Linked DNA regions of Homo sapiens. The protein of the gene in region 1 interacts with the protein of each later gene in a pairwise test. Each region holds a gene or a part of one and is shown in the gene's direction. Other genes may lie near its edges.

Region 1 (4,562 bases):
TAAAATCCACTCCAGACTGTGTTCTAAGGGGGGCTTTACTGTATTTGTTAATTAGTGTCACAAGCCAAGTGGTTCAATTTCATTCTTTATTTTTAACTTGACTACCTGTGATGACTTTGAGACTTAGAGTTCAGTTAAACCGATTATATTAGCTCTTAATTTTGCCAAAAATAGCTGGACACATAGAAGAAATTATTTACTCTTTGATAAGTATATTCTGATATTTAAATGAAAATACTGTATTATTTAGTTTATTCCGTTAATTTAACTAGGAAAGATGCTATCTAAATTTAATAGGCTAGTGTGCTTGTGTGCTTTAATTAAGTACTATTTTGTTAGTTACTGGTATGCATTGAAATATTTTCCCCCAAAGTAAGAACTGAAGCACATTACAAAGGACCTAAGTGAAAGAGATTAAAATGAAAATTTTGTGAGGAACAATATGTTAAACTTTCTTGTTTGTTACTGTGCTGACATTTTGTAGAATTTTTTTTAAAAATCTGTCTAGTGGGTTATTTTGTGACACACTGGGGAAGTCAAAATAAATGTAAAATGAAAGAGATAAACTCATACTGTAGTCAGCAAGTCATGTTAGAGATACAGCAGAAAGGAGAATAACTACTCTAATTGTTACAATAGCCTTCTTTCCTCATTTGCCATTCTTCCATCCTCAGTATTTTTTACCCTAACATGGTTCTTCACATCTTCCCTTTTTCATTTGTGTTTTAACCACTTAGTTTTTCATTAGTCTTTGACTTTGTTTTCGTTATGAAAGTTTAAATTGGTCTCCATCCTTGGGCAGATTGATGGTTGCTTTTAAGGAAATCAAGCTCCATAGTCAGTGTTTTGTATGTATCTTAGGAAAATAATTTCAGATTTTAATAATTTTATCAAAGTGGTCTCCTTATAAATTCTTCACAGTGCAAACTTAAAGTGAAAATATTTTTATTTCTCTCATTTTATTTACCTTTCTTTACATTTTCTATATCATAGATTATATAATATGTCAAGTTATTTTATTTGTTCTACTAAATTTTCTAGCAGTTTCCATAGCCTCATCTCAGATTCACTTGTTGCAACCTATAAATAAGGACGTCTTTATTTTGCAAGTAAACTTAATTAAAAAGGGAAAAGTTGAAAAATTAAAAGACTAATAATTTAGAAATATCTACTTAATGTTCAGTTTGTCTCAATTCTTACTCATTTTGTGCCATTCCTTGTTTTATTACAAAATGTTTTCTTCAAAAAGTACAAAAATGAAAAATGTGAGTACTTTTTGGTGCATTTTAGTAAGTAAAATTAAAATTCCTGCTATACATATGAACATTAATGTCAGTAATTAATAGTGTTATATATAAGGTTACCTAATGTTATTCCCAAAAGCCACACAGAGTTTAACATCATTTTCTAAAGAAAATTTTGCCAACTCTTTCAAATATTAGATTGAAATTTGGGAGATAGAAAAAAGTTGCAGAAATCAGACTGAGGGTCTCAGAGATTTGCTTTAATTTGCGACCCAGGGTAGAAAAGGAACTCCTGTCCCTGCGGTGGTCTATGAGAAAGAGAAAGCTTTAGCCCGGCCACCTCGGGCCCCAGCTCAGACTCCTCCCCTTGGCAGCCATGCATCCTTGAGAAATTTAGGGCCTCTCTGAGCCTTGGTTTCCCCTTCTGTAAAATAGACCTGTGGTCTGCCTGCAGCTTCACGAGAGTTAGACAACAGGGTCCACTGGGCTTGTCGGAATTATTGTTCCCCTTCCCCCGTCCCTCTCATCTGTCCCCCATCCCTCCCACCTGTAGGATGCTGGGGTGGAGTCCTCTCGGGGAATCTGTGGGTCTCCTCTCACAACTGGTTTAATTTCTAGTCCTTTATCATTAACCCAGCAGATATTTCTCTCACCTGCCCATTTCTGGGTGCCTAGTCTGACTGAGATGCAAAGAGGCTCCTCCCAGCTGCTGAATTGAGGGTGGATCGTCAAGGGCAGGGCAGAGCAGGAGAACAGAGCAGAGGCTGCCATCATCCAGAGGAGAGGTGGAGGCCCCCAGCAGGCGGGTAGGGGTGTGGCCGGGGAGATGGGCTTGTACTCTGCTTTGAAGCTGGACCCTTCAAGGAGCCTTGCTAGGGTTTGGAGATGTCTGTTAGACAGTGGAATTTAGGGGCAAGGTCTGGGATAGAGAGATCAAAGTGGGTGTCATCCGTCTGTCGGTAGCCTTGAAGCCTAGGACTGGTAGCGAGCACTTGCAGGGGAGGAAGAGACCAGGACCCGGGACTTAGCCCCCTTGAGGTGGAGGGACAAAGGGAATAGGGAAGGAAATGGAGAAGGCACTCACGTGACCCCTCCTCCTAGAGTGTGGTGACTGAGGGAGGCTCATTCACATGAGGAGATGAGGACGGGGGATTGGCCCCTGGGCCTTGTGATGGCTGCTGGCAGCCATGATGGGCACAGCATTTATGGAGTGGAGGGAAGAAAGCCTGATGGGAGTATGTTTGAGAGAAAATGAGAGGCTGGGAATTAGAGACACAAGTGTAGACAGCTCTTTTTTCTTTCCTTTTTTTTTTTTTTTTTTCCTTTGAGACAGAGTCTCACTCCATTGCCCAGGCTGGAGGGCAGCGATGCGATCTCAGCTCACTGCAACCTCTACCTCCTGGGTTCAAGCGATTCTTCTGCCTCAGCCTCCCGAGTAGCTGGGATTACAGGCGCCCGCCACCACGCCTGGCTAATTTTTGTATTTTTAGTAGGGCCAGGGTTTCACCGTCTTGGCCAGGCTGGTCTTGAACACCTGACCTTGTGATCCACCTGCCTCGGCCTCCCAAAGTGCCGGGATTACAGGTGTGAGCCACTGAGCCCGACCGACAGCTCTTTATGGAAGTTTTTGCTGCAAATAGGAATAAGAAATAAAGCGATAGGTAGGGCCAAAGGAAAGCAGCTACTGTGTTAACATAGGAGAAAACACCATCATTTACCAACGTGGTGGAATGTATTGGTAGAGTGCAAAATGTCGATGATGTTGGAGAAGGAAGAGTTGAGGGAGCTTGTCCTTGAGTCAGGGGGGTTAGGGTCTAGAGCTGAGCAGGCTTAGTGTAGCCGGGAGCCCAGATGGTTGCTGTGTGGCAAATGGCACACAGATGCTGGGTGGGTGCATCCTGGGAAGTCTGTGGGAGTGAGCAGGCAGAAGAGGTATCAAAAGTATAAGGTGGGCTGGGCGCAGTGGCTCACACCTATAATCCCAGCACTTTGGGAGGCCGAGGCAGGCAGATCACTTGAGGCCAGGAATTCCAGACCAGCCTGGCCAACATGGCGAAACCCCATCTCTACTAAAAATAACAAAAATTAGCCGACCGTTATGGCAGGTGCCTGTAGTCCCAGCTACTTGGGAGGCTGAGGCACGAGAATTACTTGAGCCCGGGAGGTGGAGGTTGCAGTCAGCCGAGATCATGCCACTGCACTCCAGCCTGGGCGACAGAGCGAGACTCTGTCTTTATTTATATATGTATATATGGCAGAAGGAAAAGGTGTGAGACAGTTTTCACATTTTGGCTAAATAGGTAAATAAAATGTGGGCATAATTCTGATTTGACAATATGTATGAACCAGGAGTAGGAAGGAGAATTTGCTAGTGAATTGAATGCCAGAAACACATTTCCTGAGCGGGTCTTTTGGAAGTATAACATTTTGGAAGAACTGAGTTCATGTACCAGTTCCCTAGGTTATTTCATGGTGATGTAAGTTCATTTTTCTAAGACATGCCTCAGTGAGCACTTTTTTAAGCTGCTGTTGATGCTATTTTTTTCTCACTTGCATTCTCTTGTATAGCGAGTACAGTTTCAGTGTCACTTTCCCACATGTAATCCTAATTATCCCAAGCCTAACAAGCACCCTGTGGAATAGGCAAAGCTGGTAATGTCTGCATTGAACAAATAAGGAAACAGACCCCAAGGAAGCCTGACTTTCCTGACACACTGAGTGTTTAATGCAGAGTTGAGTCTGAAACCCAGGTCACGCACTTTGAAAGGAAATAAAATGCATTACCTAGGGATCGCAGTGATGGTTGGGAAGAGTCAGTTCCAAGTAAAATAGAGCATCATTTGAAAGCTGTCGCTGGGCTCAGTCTAAGCCCAGTTGCTTGGTTCCCAGCTGTAAACTGAGGAGGTCAGATAGGTCTCTCCACAGGTCCCTTGAGATCCTCTGTTCTTTAGAGAGCTGTGAATGAATCTAAGGTAGCATTAGTATGAAAACTGATTTCAATTTGCTTATGTAATGTTTATCTAATTTCGTGTTTAATCATTTTTGCTATAGGTATTCTTAGTTATAAGATAAACTTTATTTTGAACTAGAGTGGGAAGGTGTGTAGACTTCATTGTGTTGATTTAATAAACTGTGATCATAGTTTATGAAGATGCAGAGTGTGAGAGTTTTAAAAAATAGTGTAACTTGGAAACCCAAACCTTATTTGAATATTATTTCAAAATTCCGCTGCTGATCCAGTGGGGTGGCCTAGTCGATAGGTTTAAATATTATTCAAGTGATGCTGCCGCATGTACTGTGAATACAAGGTACTTCAGT
Region 2 (5,224 bases), on another chromosome or scaffold:
AGAGGGAACAGGAAGAGTGAGTGAGCTGGCTAACTTCCAGAATCCTGGGGCCTGGGCAGTGCAGGGTCGTTGGCGTTCTGCTCTAAGCTTAAGGTGTTAGCCAACCAAATGCCAAGCAGCACAAACACTGAGTGACATTTTCAGAACTATTAATATTTCATCAGAAATGATCACTTTTCCTTTAAATACACTATTTTAAAAGGTTTTCTACATTCTTAACTATAATTTTATTCAGTCTAGGCCCTCAGAATTTTCCCCAAAGGAACACATCTTCAATTTTGTAATGAAAATCAAAGGAGAATGAAGCTCAGATTTCAAAATTTAGAGTAAACATTTCCAGGAACTCAGCCCCTCTGTAAAGAGCAAGGTTGCGTATTGGGCACCTACTGTATACCAGGCACTTTACATACAGTATACCATTAATTCATCCAACACATATTTTTTGAGTGCCTACTATGTGCCAGAAACATGATCCTCATAATTTATTAACACCATTTTACAGAAAAGGAATTCCTCTCATCCTTCTCAAATTTTTCTCCTCAAAGAAGTCGGCCTGGACCACCATGGAATATTGCCTCCCCTCTTCTCCCCAGTGCCTCACTTTGTTACTAGGTTGGTACAAAAGTAATTGTGGTTTTTGCCATTGCAAGTGATGGCAAAAACCGCAATTACTTTTGCACCAACCTAATAGTTATTTTCCATCAGAGTCCCATTGCATCTGTAATTATTGCTGCTTTACTCGCTTGGCTGGTTTGCATCGATCTCTCCTCGCTAGTATACAGGCTCCAGGAGAGCAGGGACCATGCCATTTTTGCCCACCCTTATGCTTCTTCAGTGCCCAGCAACTCATCGGGCACAGAGGAGGGGTTGCATCAGTACTGGGGGAATTATGAATGGGGATGGGAGAAGTTCAGAAAGTTCTTAAGGTCACACAGCTCGGAAATGAGTGTCAGGATTCAACCCAGCCCTGCATTTATAGACTGCCATCTTCCTCTATTTGTGTCCATTCTTCTTTCTTCCGTCTCCACCCTCTTGCTTTTCCTTTTCAGGGGAATTGCTAGAGAAGCAACCCCCTGACTCTCGGAACCAGAAAGTCTCCCTCAGCAGAGGTACTGTGTCAGTGCCCAATTGAATGAAGCCGCTTCAGTGAGGGTAGGGGCCTGTTGATCAGCAAACAGCTAACTTAGCCCTTCTCCCTGCACCTCGGACCTCCTACTCCTGCTCCTACCCACCTACTGAAGCTGTCTCAGTGGTCAAGGGCTAGATCAGGCCTAGAGTGCTGGGGTCTGAGTCTCAGCTTCCCTTTTCTCAGGGGGCCTTGGACGCAATCCCTTATGACTTTGAGATTCGCTTTCCTCCCGTGTAGAACGATAATAAAAAGTGGTACTAATTTCACGAGCTTTAATAGGATTGAATGTGAGCCCAGCGCTTGGCACAGGGCAAGCGCCCCATAAAATGGCAGTTAGGATTAAAATCGAGGTTGCCGGGGGACCCCCAGGCAGGAGCTGAGATTTGTGTGGAGCGGCGAAGTGGGGCGGCGGCGCGTTTGGCTTTGACTTCTGATCCCCCGAAGCGCTCTGGGGTCCTTTGGGCCCCACCCCCACCCACCCCACCGGCGGGTCTTGGGCTCCGAACCCAGGGCGCCCCGCGCACCGAGCCGTTGCGTTTGAAACCCACAGAAAGAATTCCCCCGCTCGACGACGGCGAGGGTGTGGGAGCTACTGGCAGGCAAATTGGTGGGAGCCGCCCGGCCCAGCCTGCCTTGCCGAGTCAGCGCGCTCTTGAGCCGCTGGGCCCTTCCCGGTGCCCGCCTGGCAGCGCGGCGCGGCTGGGGCAGGGGTCTGCTGGGGGCCGGGGACTAAGGGCTGTGGGCCCATCCACACACGCCTCATCCCTTCTTTCCGGGGGCAGCAGAGCAGCAGCGGGAGACCGGGAGCAGGAGGGGTAGGGCGAGAGAAAAGCAGGACCTGGGCCGGGGGTGGGAGTCGGGCCGTTGACGCTCGCTCTGCGAGGGGCTCCCTGGGAACGCCCAGGCGAGCGCCTCCTGCGGGGCCCCGCCCCCCGAGTGCCTACAATGGTGCCAGGCCCGCACCCAGTCCTCCGCGTGGCTTAGCGGGACAGCATGGGCTGAGCCCAGGCGCCGAAAGTTGTCACGGCGGCGTCGCAAGGGGGCAGTGCCAGGGACTGTGGGGAGAGCCAGCCCTCCCCTTCCAGCTGTTCCCAGATGTCATTCTGCCCGCCCAGGCGCCTGGTTCCTGAGCTCCGCAGCATTCCACTGTTCCTAAGCTACTGGTTTTTGTTGACTTTTAAATATTTTCTTCTAAGGGAGAGGGGGAGGGAGGCAAAAGTCAGGAAAGAGCAAATAAAAACAAATCAAAATAAGCCCTCCCCTCCCCAAAAGAAAGCTGTCCTCCACCCACCCCTCCCACACAAATAGAAGGCCTCTGAACCTAACCACCTTGCTGGAGCGAAAGCCAGACAGAACTGACCCACTTCTGCCAAGCCCCATCCTCATCTCCCTTTCTGGTGAATGAGGGGTGGTGGTGGTTGTGTTCTAGCCCTGGGTGGACAGAGGGGCTTCCAGAAAGAGAGGAGGAGGATGGCCAGCGGGAATGGGCTTCCTTCATCCTCGGCCCTGGTGGCCAAGGGCCCCTGCGCCCTGGGCCCATTCCCCAGATACATCTGGATCCACCAGGACACACCCCAAGACAGCCTAGACAAGACTTGCCATGAAATCTGGAAGAGAGTTCAAGGCCTGCCTGAGGCCTCACAGCCCTGGACCTCCATGGAGCAGCTCTCTGTCCCTGTGGTTGGAACTCTAAGAGGCAATGAGCTCAGCTTTCAAGAAGAGTAAGTACCCCCCTACTCCATTGGCAGCAAGGGAGGAGGGAGGAGATGAAGTCTGACCTTCTGGGGGAATGTTCTGGCCCACTGTTGAGGCTGGTGAAACCCTAAAGGCTGTATATTGCCCCCTCCATGGTCCTTTGTCCAAGCTTTATAGAAGAGCTGACCAAAGTTCTGAAGTTTTGTGGGTGAAGAGTCAGATTAGGGCTATATTCCAGGCTGCCTCTTCACCAGCCCGTTAAGCAGACATTTCTCATCCTAAACGCATGTGAATCTGAGGTCCTTGAAAAACCACCCTAGCTAAGGCTAAGGGTTATATGGCTTGTGGCTTTCCCCAGAAGCAACTAGAAGATCCTTCCCCTCTCCCACCTAAAGGCTAGGCATTCACATGGATGAGTCTGATGGTTTTAAATCACATCTGGAATTCCCTAATACAGGGAGCAGCTGTCCCATTCAGCCTCCACAGAAGCTGCTGCAAGAGCACACATCAAAATATTTACTGGGAAGGCACTGACATATTCAGAGGACATAATAGAAAATTAAAGTGCGGGAAGATGGCTGTAAATAGCCCGTTTCCGGGATGGGAAATCCTGTGTCTGGGAAACACAGAGCTAAGTGTTTCTCCATCAGGGCAAAGTTGGGCAGATATTGTTGAGGATGGATATTCGAAAGGAAAGGAAGGAGCAGAGAGGAAAAAGGGAAATTAGGAAAAGAAAGTAAATCTGCTGTGGTTATTAATACCGCCGTTGAGCACTTACTTATTTCACGTTTTGCATCTTCAAAGTGGACTGTAAACTTAATTAATGTTCCCAGAGTCCCTGTGAGGCAGGTATTAGTGTCCCCATTTTACAGATGGATTAAGTGTTAATAATTAAGAGCTAATTAAAGACTAACCGATAATTAAGTGTTGCCTGCTCCAACACATGCTACAGCTCAGTTCAGAGATGCTCTGGAGTTGGGGAGCCATTCAGGCATTTATCAGCTGCCTCGGGTTTCAGGGATGCCTAAGCAAGAGCTAAGAAGAAAAGCAAAGTGTAAATGACACCCAGCTCTACACTACCTGCTGTCCCTCTGTGGGCTCATTTACTTACTGCAGATGAAGGTGGAAGGCACTTTGGCTAGTCCTGCCTCCCTGCCCTGTGCTCAGCATGACAAGGCTCAGACAGGAATGGCCCATCTACAGCTAAAATCCTGCTGTCAGGCCCTTCAGTGGCACTGAGCCCTTCTCCCCTGCTCATTGCCATCTGCTCTGGGACAGGGCCTTGGCAGGAGGGCCCATGGGGCTGTGCTCTGCTCTCAATGGCCAAGAAGCTGATTGTCCACTTTGTGGACCAAGGGTCAGTAGCAATTTCCAGTAGATGGCATCCTCTTTGCCAGGTCACACAGAGTTAATGGAGACAGACTCGACTTCCAGTCTGCACTTGGCTGAAAATTGAACTGGTGCACCTTTGGCCAGCTGCTTAACTCCATTTGGCCTTTACTTCCTCATTTGCAAATTGAGGGTGATATGTGCTGCCTTGTCTACCTCAGAGTTGATAATGAGGATCCAATGTGATGGGAGACAGGGAAATGAAAGATGCATTATACAAATCAGGCTGCTCTTAACATGTACTTCTTCAGGTTGGGATTTGTTGTTGTTGTTGTTGTTTTTGTTGTTGTTGGCTTCAATCTGGGGTTCACACTATGCTCCATATACCTCAAGGTGCTTCAGGGGTCACTGTGGAGTCAAGTGGGCTGGTTGCTGGGCCCCAAAATCCATTTCAGCCAGAGCTGTTTAGCTTTTATCAGTTTTACTTACTAGAGTTCTGAGTAGGGCTGAATTTGAAAAACATGTTTCTGCTATTGAGAAAAGAGATAGGAAACCAATGACTTAGACGAATAAACGACATCCTAATTGTCAACCAAATAGAACACAATGAGCTATTCTTAAAATAAAGGCGGTGTGCTGGTGGAGTCAGATAACTCTGGTTTCAGATTCCATTTCAGCCCCATGCCATTTGAAGAATTTGTTACTCTTTAATTTATCTAAACTTTGGTTTCCTCATCTGCCAAATGGAGATTAATACTATACATTTTGTAGGGTTGTTGGAATGATTAAATGGGATATTTAAACATTTATGGTAATAATTCAGATTTGTAAAAATTCCTTGCAATTCAGATGTGATCATTTCTTTAAGCTCTACAATTATTGCATGAGGTAGGTACTCTTTTAAACTTTCCATCTCTTTTTACTTTTTATTATGCAAATTTTCAAACACATAGAATAATAATATGGTGAATATCTATGTGTCTATCACTGAGTTTCAATAATTATCACATTGTGCCATTCTGGTTTCAATTGCTACCTCCACCCCTCCATTTATAAGTGAAATTACTTTTA
Region 3 (3,562 bases), on another chromosome or scaffold:
TGTTGCCCCAAACCTCAGGGTTCCCTCTTGCATATTCATGGGGGAACCACAGTGCTGATGTGTACTTCCCCACTGTCAGCTCGGCTGCACCTCGTGTGGCGCCAGGTCCCAAGGGCCTCTGCAGAGGCCAGGCTGTGAGCCCCTTGCCTGCCTGCTCCCCTGATGAGGCAACAGCTTCTCTGAAATGAGCTGCCGGCCAGGAGCAGGCAGGCACCAGCCTGTCTTTCCTTTTCTGGTAATTCCTCAGCACTGAGGCTCCGTTCCTGGGCACCCCAGGATTGAAGGGAACCTCAGAATCATGTCACTGCCATTCTAGAGTTTCAATCCAAGGGGTCCCCTTTAGCTCATCTCCAAGATGGGTAAACGTAGCCACCATTCAGAAAGCCCAGAAATTCTTGTTCCCACATCTTAGACCCCTGAGCAACACAAGGAGAAAATGCAGCTGCTTACCTATTAATATCTACTGAGGGACAATCAGCAAAGCCTCAAAGGAGTCGTCTCAGGTAGGGTACTTGGCCTGTGGCAGGAGAGACAGAGGCACAAACCCACCCACCCATCAGCTTCCGGTGGCTGATCGGGGCCCAGGGAGGGAAGCAGGTGAAACAGCAGGGTGGGGGTGACTTGGCAGTCGTGCATCTCCTCCCCGACTCTGAGGCCTGGCAGGAGGAGGCCACACCAGCCTCACCTGCCCTGACCCCCGCCCCCCACCCTGTGACCCTGTGGCTATGGCCGCTGGTCGCCCTTGTCCCCAAAATCACCATGCCTGTGGCCACGTCCCTCATCTTCTCCAAAAGCATCATTAAGAACAAGTGATTTTGGATGATGGATTTTTGATTTACAAACGGCGCATTTCCCTTGGAGTGGAACAGAAAGGAAACCATTTAATGGCGCCCTTCTTTTCAAGCATGAATACATTTTAATGAAACTATTTTATTGTATTTGAGGAAATGGAGAGTTGAACATTCCAACCAATCAATAGCCAATTAATTGCTATAAAGCTAAAAAGAAAATAAATAAATCCTGAGTCTATTTTAAACACTGCAAAAAGTTCAGAGCCTCAGAATCTGGCCTTCCCCTCCATAAGGTGCACGAGCATGTAAACACACACACACACACACACACACACACACACACACTCACTCACTCCCCTACACCTCAGACATACTTGAAACTCAGAAACAGCACTGAGTCTCCCCATGCCAATTCTTGCCTGCTGTCTTCGACTTGGGTCAGAGAAGGTGAGCAGACCCGGCAGCAGCCTGTCCCGGGGCTCAGGAAGAGGCAGGCCCATCCCCTGGCCCCAAGCACCCAGCACAACAGAGGGTGGCGGGCAGTGAGGGCCTGGCGTTGCCTGGGCCCCACTTCTCAGCCCCAGCTGCTGGGCCTCCAAGGTTGGGCTGAGGATGGAGTTTTGGCTCTGGGTTTGCCCTGACTCCTGCTGGAAGACGCTGCCCTGGTTTTTCACCCTCTAGTGGCCTTGGACATTGAGTATTTGTAGAAATGCAGATTACATTGCAAATGGAAACCTTTGCCAGGAAGACACATGCATTTTGCTTTTAATTCTTTGAGACATTTGATTTTGTCTTAGGGACTGACCTTTCAGCATCAAAGAAATACATATCTACTGTATCCGCCAAAGTTTGTGATGCCTGCATAGACGCTTACTTGTAAAAAAAAAAAAATACAAAAAAATACAAAAAAACCAACAACAAAAACCACAATTGAATTGCCTTTGAAAGTGGGAGATGATCTGTCTCCAACGGATTGAAAAAAAAAAATGCTTCTTAAAAAATGTGTATGTTTTGTATTCTTTTTTTCTAGTAGAAAATAACTGACTTGAAATATTGGTGGTTTTTTTCTTAGTGACGTGTGTTGCTTTTGTGTGTAATAATATTTGAATGTAATTACAGCAGTGCCAATTTGCCAAAGATGTTGGACATATTTTTCTTTTTTGGGGAGGAGGGCAGGGCTAGGGGTGGGACTTGGGAGAAAACAGGGGTGGGGTTTTGGTTTAATTTTTTTTTTACTTTTTTTTCCTTGTCAAACCTGAAATTTGTGGCTTCCTTTTAAGTTAAATGGTTGACTGCAACACCTTTATTTTAGATTAGTTGGAGAAACATGCAATAAGATTGGCGTAGTTTCAATATCTGTGTGTCTTTTCATGAGTGGCTGTTACTTGTGAAGAATTGATTTTATGTAACCTTTATGTGAGATAATTATTTGTAAATATTTGCCATAATTTTATTGGTTCCTAAAATAAAAGTAATTTTTTAAGTTCAGAAAAAGAATTTGATCTTGTTTGTTTTTACTAGTTTGAGGATGACCTTTGACAACTTTGACTGTACCGTAGTCATGCATGGATTTGATTGTTTTGTCAAAACAAACCCATGTTGCAGAATTGGGCTGTGCCCTGGGCAGGGGACAGCAGGCACAGAATCCACCCTTGAGATGTCCCCAGGCTTGGCAGGTTGAGTCATGGGTGAGCCACCACTCTGGATTTGACTCCTAGCTGTGATTTAATGTCTACTTCTTCAGTTCCCAAATGGTAATTCCCACCTAATTCATTCATTCAGCACACACTGATTGAGCATCTATTCTGTCCCCAGCACTGGGGACACAGAAGTGAACAGGGCCAACCAGGACTCTGCTATCAGTGGCACAATCATAGCTCACTGCAACCTTGAATTCCTGGGTTCAAGCCACCCTCTTGCCTCAGCCTCTCAAGTAGCTAGGACTACAGGCGTTCACCACCAAGCCCAGCTAGTTTTTAAAATAATTTTTCCCTACTTACAAACTAACATATTATCAGCTAATTTTTTAAAACTTTTTGTAGAAACAGGCTCTCACTATGTTGCCCAGGCTGATTTCAAACTCCTGGCCTTAAGCCTTCCTCCTGCGTCAGCACCCCCAAAGTGCTGGAATTACAGGCATGAGCCACCGCCCCCATCCCATATGTGCTTTTCACTTTGATCCTGTCGAGCCTCCTGGAACCTAAAATGCCTGGATCCAGACAGAACTCAGAAGCCATTCACACCAGGAGACCTCGCCTCTGGGCCCCAAAGCCACAGGCCATATCCAGTCAGACCTCGGAGAGCAAGAGTCCACAATCCTTCTGTCCTGTCCTTAAGCCTTTGGAACTGAAAATTTCAGGTGCAAAGGAGCCCAGAGGTGGCTTTTCATCAGCGGGTAGGGCAGCTGCAGACTTGAGCTCTGCCCCTGCCGGGCGATGTCAGAGTGTGCAAGGGCAGGCAGGGACCGCTGCGCCCGTTGGCACAGTGTGCAACTCAGTAATTGCCAGAGATGGAGTGGGCGAGTGACCGCGTGGGGGCCGTGGACAGCAACTCATTCATATTTAATAAAGCAGCTGCACGGCCTCCATTCATTTCTGCAATGGATGGTGGCGAAGGTGATTCCTGAGGGAGAGAGGGTGAGCCATGGCAGAGTGCTGGCCTGGCTCCTCCCTTCTCAGTGCTCCTGACTTACAGCACAAACTTCAAAGAGAAGTAGGCATGTTTTTTTAACTGAAATCGGACCCCAAACCTATGAACTGGTGAGGCAGGGC
Region 4 (4,562 bases), on another chromosome or scaffold:
GTTAATGGTTAAGGACTGGAAATAATAGAGAAGCTGAGGATCAAGTGTACAGTTAATAGCTTAAAAATTATTGGGAGGAAATTCTTAAAGTTTTGATAGGGACAGGGATATTTTGTTGGTTGAACTTTATCATCTTGTAATTAATGTCTTACTCTGTCTTTCCAGAGGGCAGCATAATTGATGGCATGATGGCTTGGGGTGCTGTGTGGGCTTATTTAGCATTTGTTCTTCAGGCCAATGCTCATTTCACGACTGGGGCCTCTGATTCTGGAAAGAGTAATTTTGGATTTCAGGGTCTCACAACATTTTATGGAGTTCTAAAACTGGAAGCGACCTTAGGGACTACTTTCTATAACTTCCTTTTGACTAAGTGAAACAGGCCTGGGAAAGCTTGACTCGTTTAACCAAGGTGTATAGGTGAATAAGCAGAGGAGTTGTACCACCAAACCAGTATTTATGTCAAAACTAATACTGCTTTGAGGATGATTTATGCTAAATTATCTTCTGATGTTATCCCCTTTCCCCCAAGGCAGCCAATGTTTTAACTCTCCCAAGCAGACAGAGTTATGTGTGGCTGTAGCCAAATTTGGGTACAATATGGAACAGGTGCTTGGCTGTTCTTGGGTGGTTGGTGAGTAGAGTTTCCTAAGCTTTAGTTATTTATGTCCTACCTCCCTCAAGATTTCTACCCTACCCCTGTACCACCTGTACTTTTATTCTGAAGTTTTCTTTAAACTAATTTTTTAAGAAACTTTGTGTTTCCTGGGCAGTACTACACGTGGAGTCATGGATTTATTGAAATATATGTATATATAAAATTTATATCAAATCATGTTTACATACTATTTTTAATCTATTTGATATTACATGCACACACGTATATGATTATACATAATAAAATGAGACCATTACTATTAACACTTTAAAAGTTCATCTGTGTATCGAAAACAACAGTTGTGTTCCATTAGAGATAGCTGTGGTGGAAAATGCTGATTTAATGGAGGAAGTGTGGGCTTCCAAGTTGGGCCAACCTGGATTTAGCTTTTTTTTTTTTTTTGCAATTGTGTGGCCTTGGGCAAGTTGCATAGCCTCTCATTTGTAAATTAGTTTGTGCACTTCAGAAAAAATTTCAAACCAACATTTGTGTGAGAAAAGCCCTCCTCCTGGTAGAAGTTATTCTTGTCACCATAAATGTAATTTTTATTGTTGTTGTTAACCAGTGGTAATATATTTCAGAAAAGGGCTCCCAGAAGGTAGGGTGGAACCCATGAACGAAGACCCATGTGGAGAAGTATGGGGGTGGGGCGGGGGGGAGAATATGGAAGCTTTAACCTGCCTGATGGATTGGTTATATTTTTTTGAGAGCTTGCTGTGCATCAGCATCCTGTAGGACTTCATTATATATTGTGTTATAATACTTTGCTTCCTACAAACAGACTGTGCTCAAGCCTTTAAAGCAGGGAATCAGAAAACTGGCAGTCATCCTTGAGACCTCCTCCTTGCTTATACCCCATTCATCCATCAGCGTCTCTACATCCATGCGCACATCCTGTTCAGTTCCAAAATATATTTCCAATCCACCAGATGCTCTCCAGTTTCACCAGTATGCTTGGTCTCCCTTCTGGCTTCAGGGTGACTTCTCTTCCCCAGGGCTCCTGCATATTCTGTTCTGGTCTTTCTGCCTGGACACCTGTCTAGCCACCCCCTCCCACTTAGCATTCCACTCAGCTCTTCTCACCTTAGCCTGTGGTTAGAAAGGTAGGCTCTGGTGCCAGTCTGCTTGGGTTGGGACCCTGGCTGTCCTGTTTATGTGCCCCTTATTCTCCCTATACTTCATTTTCCTTCCATATAGAGTGAGAGTGATAATACTACTTAACTCATAGGGCTGTTGGAAGATTACCTAGATAGTATATGTAAAAAGCACTTAGAACAGAATCTGTCATAGATTCAGCCCCTATATGTTTGCTGTCATGAACTACTGTCATGCCTGCCCCTTCATCATTCAAGTCTCAGGCTTTTCTGATATATCATTTACAATTATATACTTATTTGCATCTTGCCATCTCCCCCTAATAGGTCAGTTTCATGAGGGCATGGATGAGGTCTGTTTTGGTATGGCAGAAGTACCTGGCACCTGCACAATTAGTTCCTAGAAGGCTGAGGGCACAAATATTTATTGGAACATGAATAAACTTGGGATGAATAAATTAAAAAGGGAAATCCGGTGACTGAGGGCTGTTGGGGAAAGTCAAGGTTAAAGCTGAAAGTATCCTTTGCATCTATCTGCTTTGGAGCCTAGGTTAAGCCTGAAAGTAAAATTAAGCTCCAGAAGTAGGAAGGAAGAGGAGGTTTACTCTGGGACAAAAGAGACTGAAACAGGGCCAGGCGTGGTGGCTCATGCCTGTAATCCCATCACTTTGGGAGGCCGAGGCGGGTGGATCACCTGAGGTCAGGAGTTCGAGACCAGCCTTAACAACATGGTGAAACCCCGTCTCTACTAAAAAATACAAAAATTAGCTGGGCATGGTGGTAGGCGCCTGTAATCCCAGCTACTTGGGAGGCTGAGGCAGGAGAATCTCTTGAACCCAGGAGGCGGAGGTTGCAGTGAGCCGAGATTGTGCCATTGCACTCCAGCCTGGGGGACAGAGCAAGACTGCATCTCAAAAACAAAACAAAACAACAACAACAAAAAACAACAGAAAAAGAGGCCGAAACATTTGAAGAGTAAATATGTGCAGAAAATCAAATTTGTTAGAAAAATGGGTTGGGGCAGTAATGAGATTTCCGGGAATCAGGAGCTGTAGAGCCCCACCAGCAGGGACCTACGGGAATAATGGCCTGGTGTGCAGTGCAGGGGCTGCCCGAAGATATACACAGCATGACTTAGGAGAGCTGGTGGTGATGGTGGTGTCTGCATGCGGATATCCCAGAGTGGTGGTTCTTCAACTTCAGAGGACATTCAGATTACCCTGAAGGCTGGTTGAAACAGATTGCTGGGTCTCTAAGATTCAGTAGGTCTGAGGTCAGGCCTCAGAAATTGCACTGGTGACAAGATCCCAGGTAATCTGATGGTGCTGGTCTAGGGCCCCACTTCGAGAACCCTCACCTAAAGGGAAGACATCCAGTTCTGCAGGGGCTAGAGCATTCTGCTTGATACGAGCAGGGCTGGATTAGACTTCTATGTATGGCTGAAGTTGCAGTAGTTTGGTTTAACAGCCAACCCAGCCAAGATTTGGTGTTCTTGTCCCAGAATTTGTGCCCTCTCTTAGTTCAGATCTAAGGGAATGGACCAGGAAGTCTCAGTCCCCCTCCAGTGGCTTTTTCCATTACACTTGAAATAAAATGCAAACCCTTTACCTTGGCCTTCAAGGCCCTACCAGTCTGGCCCTTGTTCACCTCTGCAGTCATTGCCTGCAGCCAAACAGCCTGGCTTTGAGTTCTGGCTACTCTGTTTACTGCCTGTTTGACTCAGCTTCCTCAACCATGGAATGAGGTTTGTATTTCTTCCAACTTCATAGAGTTGCTGGGAAGAGAAAATGAGCTAATGTATGCAAAGTGTGTAGAATCGTGCCTGTCACACAGGCAGCACTCAACACAGGTCAGCCACTATTAGCTGATCCCTTATTAAAGGATGCTGGGGGTCTCCTGTTGTACTTAACCATAACAGCCACAAGATCCTGCCTTTCAAGATCTGGGCTTTGAGTCACCCCTTCCAACTTGCTGTGTGGTGGGACCACAGGCTGCCTCTCTCTTCTTCCAACAGGCCTAGCTTCTTTGTGTATAGGTTCCTGTCCCTTGCTCCCTGCAGCAGTTTTGTTTCCTGTCATTTGGTTCTTAGCTCGGAAACTCCCCCACAGGGAGGCCTTCCTTGCAGCCTGTCTTCCCTCATCCTTGCCAGTTCATTTCCCTGAGTTAATATGTTTTGTAGCGCTTGTCACTGAAATGCAATTATTAGGATGCTATTCTCTCCATGGCCTGCCTTCCAGCTGGAATGTAAGCTGCATGAGAGCAGAGGCTTGTCTGTGGTGTTCACATCTGTGAACGGCCTAGTGCCTGGGAGTAGACTAGGTGCTCAGTAAATACTTCATGAAGAAATTAATAAATGCAGAAAGAACTATTAATGAGCAATTGTGAGTATTTATAACATTTAACTATCTCAATGCTTGGTTTATTTTGGTAACTCCTGTTAGTTTTCTTGTTAGCATCGAAAACTCTTAAAGGCATGAATGCCTGTTTTAGAGGCAGCTGGGGAAGTGGAGTGAGGGAGGTGGAAAGTTTGTTTCTTCAAAAGGGGAGGATGTTGATAAAGTTTTCTGGGAAGAAAGGACAGGTTGACCAGTTGACTTGGGGGACCAAAAGAGGAGGCAAGGGAGATACTTCATTTCAGAAAGCTCCTCACCTGAGACTAATTGGCTGGCCCCAGGCGCTGCTGCAGACCTCCCAGAATCCCAGTGTTCAGGGAGGAACTGATGTTTGTGCTTAACTCATGCCTCAGGTGACTCTTAGGAGAGGAGCAGTGTAGGAAGCACTGGTTGGGAGGTCCTGCTGTTTTCAGCTTCTCA

What was found.
Region 2: the proteins of MAPK9 (region 1) and C1orf94 interact in binary tests that used the Homo sapiens proteins (3 or more experiments, as listed by UniProt).
Region 3: the proteins of MAPK9 (region 1) and PAX5 interact in binary tests that used the Homo sapiens proteins (3 or more experiments, as listed by UniProt).
Region 4: the proteins of MAPK9 (region 1) and MED12L interact in binary tests that used the Homo sapiens proteins (3 or more experiments, as listed by UniProt).

The regions. Positions count from the first base shown.
Region 1 is NC_000005.10:180,242,782-180,247,343, reverse strand, and holds part of MAPK9 (mitogen-activated protein kinase 9), read left to right. Parts: exon of another isoform or gene 1-1,324; intron 1,325-4,562. UniProt on the Homo sapiens protein: Serine/threonine-protein kinase involved in various processes such as cell proliferation, differentiation, migration, transformation and programmed cell death.
Region 2 is NC_000001.11:34,175,260-34,180,483, forward strand, and holds the start of C1orf94 (uncharacterized protein C1orf94), read left to right. Parts: upstream 1-1,647; 5' UTR 1,648-2,530; coding exon 2,531-2,850; intron 2,851-5,224.
Region 3 is NC_000009.12:36,831,992-36,835,553, reverse strand, and holds the end of PAX5 (paired box protein Pax-5), read left to right. Parts: 3' UTR 1-2,285; downstream 2,286-3,562. UniProt on the Homo sapiens protein: Transcription factor that plays an essential role in commitment of lymphoid progenitors to the B-lymphocyte lineage. Fulfills a dual role by repressing B-lineage inappropriate genes and simultaneously activating B-lineage-specific genes.
Region 4 is NC_000003.12:151,088,379-151,092,940, forward strand, and holds part of MED12L (mediator of RNA polymerase II transcription subunit 12-like protein), read left to right. Parts: intron 1-4,562. UniProt on the Homo sapiens protein: May be a component of the Mediator complex, a coactivator involved in the regulated transcription of nearly all RNA polymerase II-dependent genes.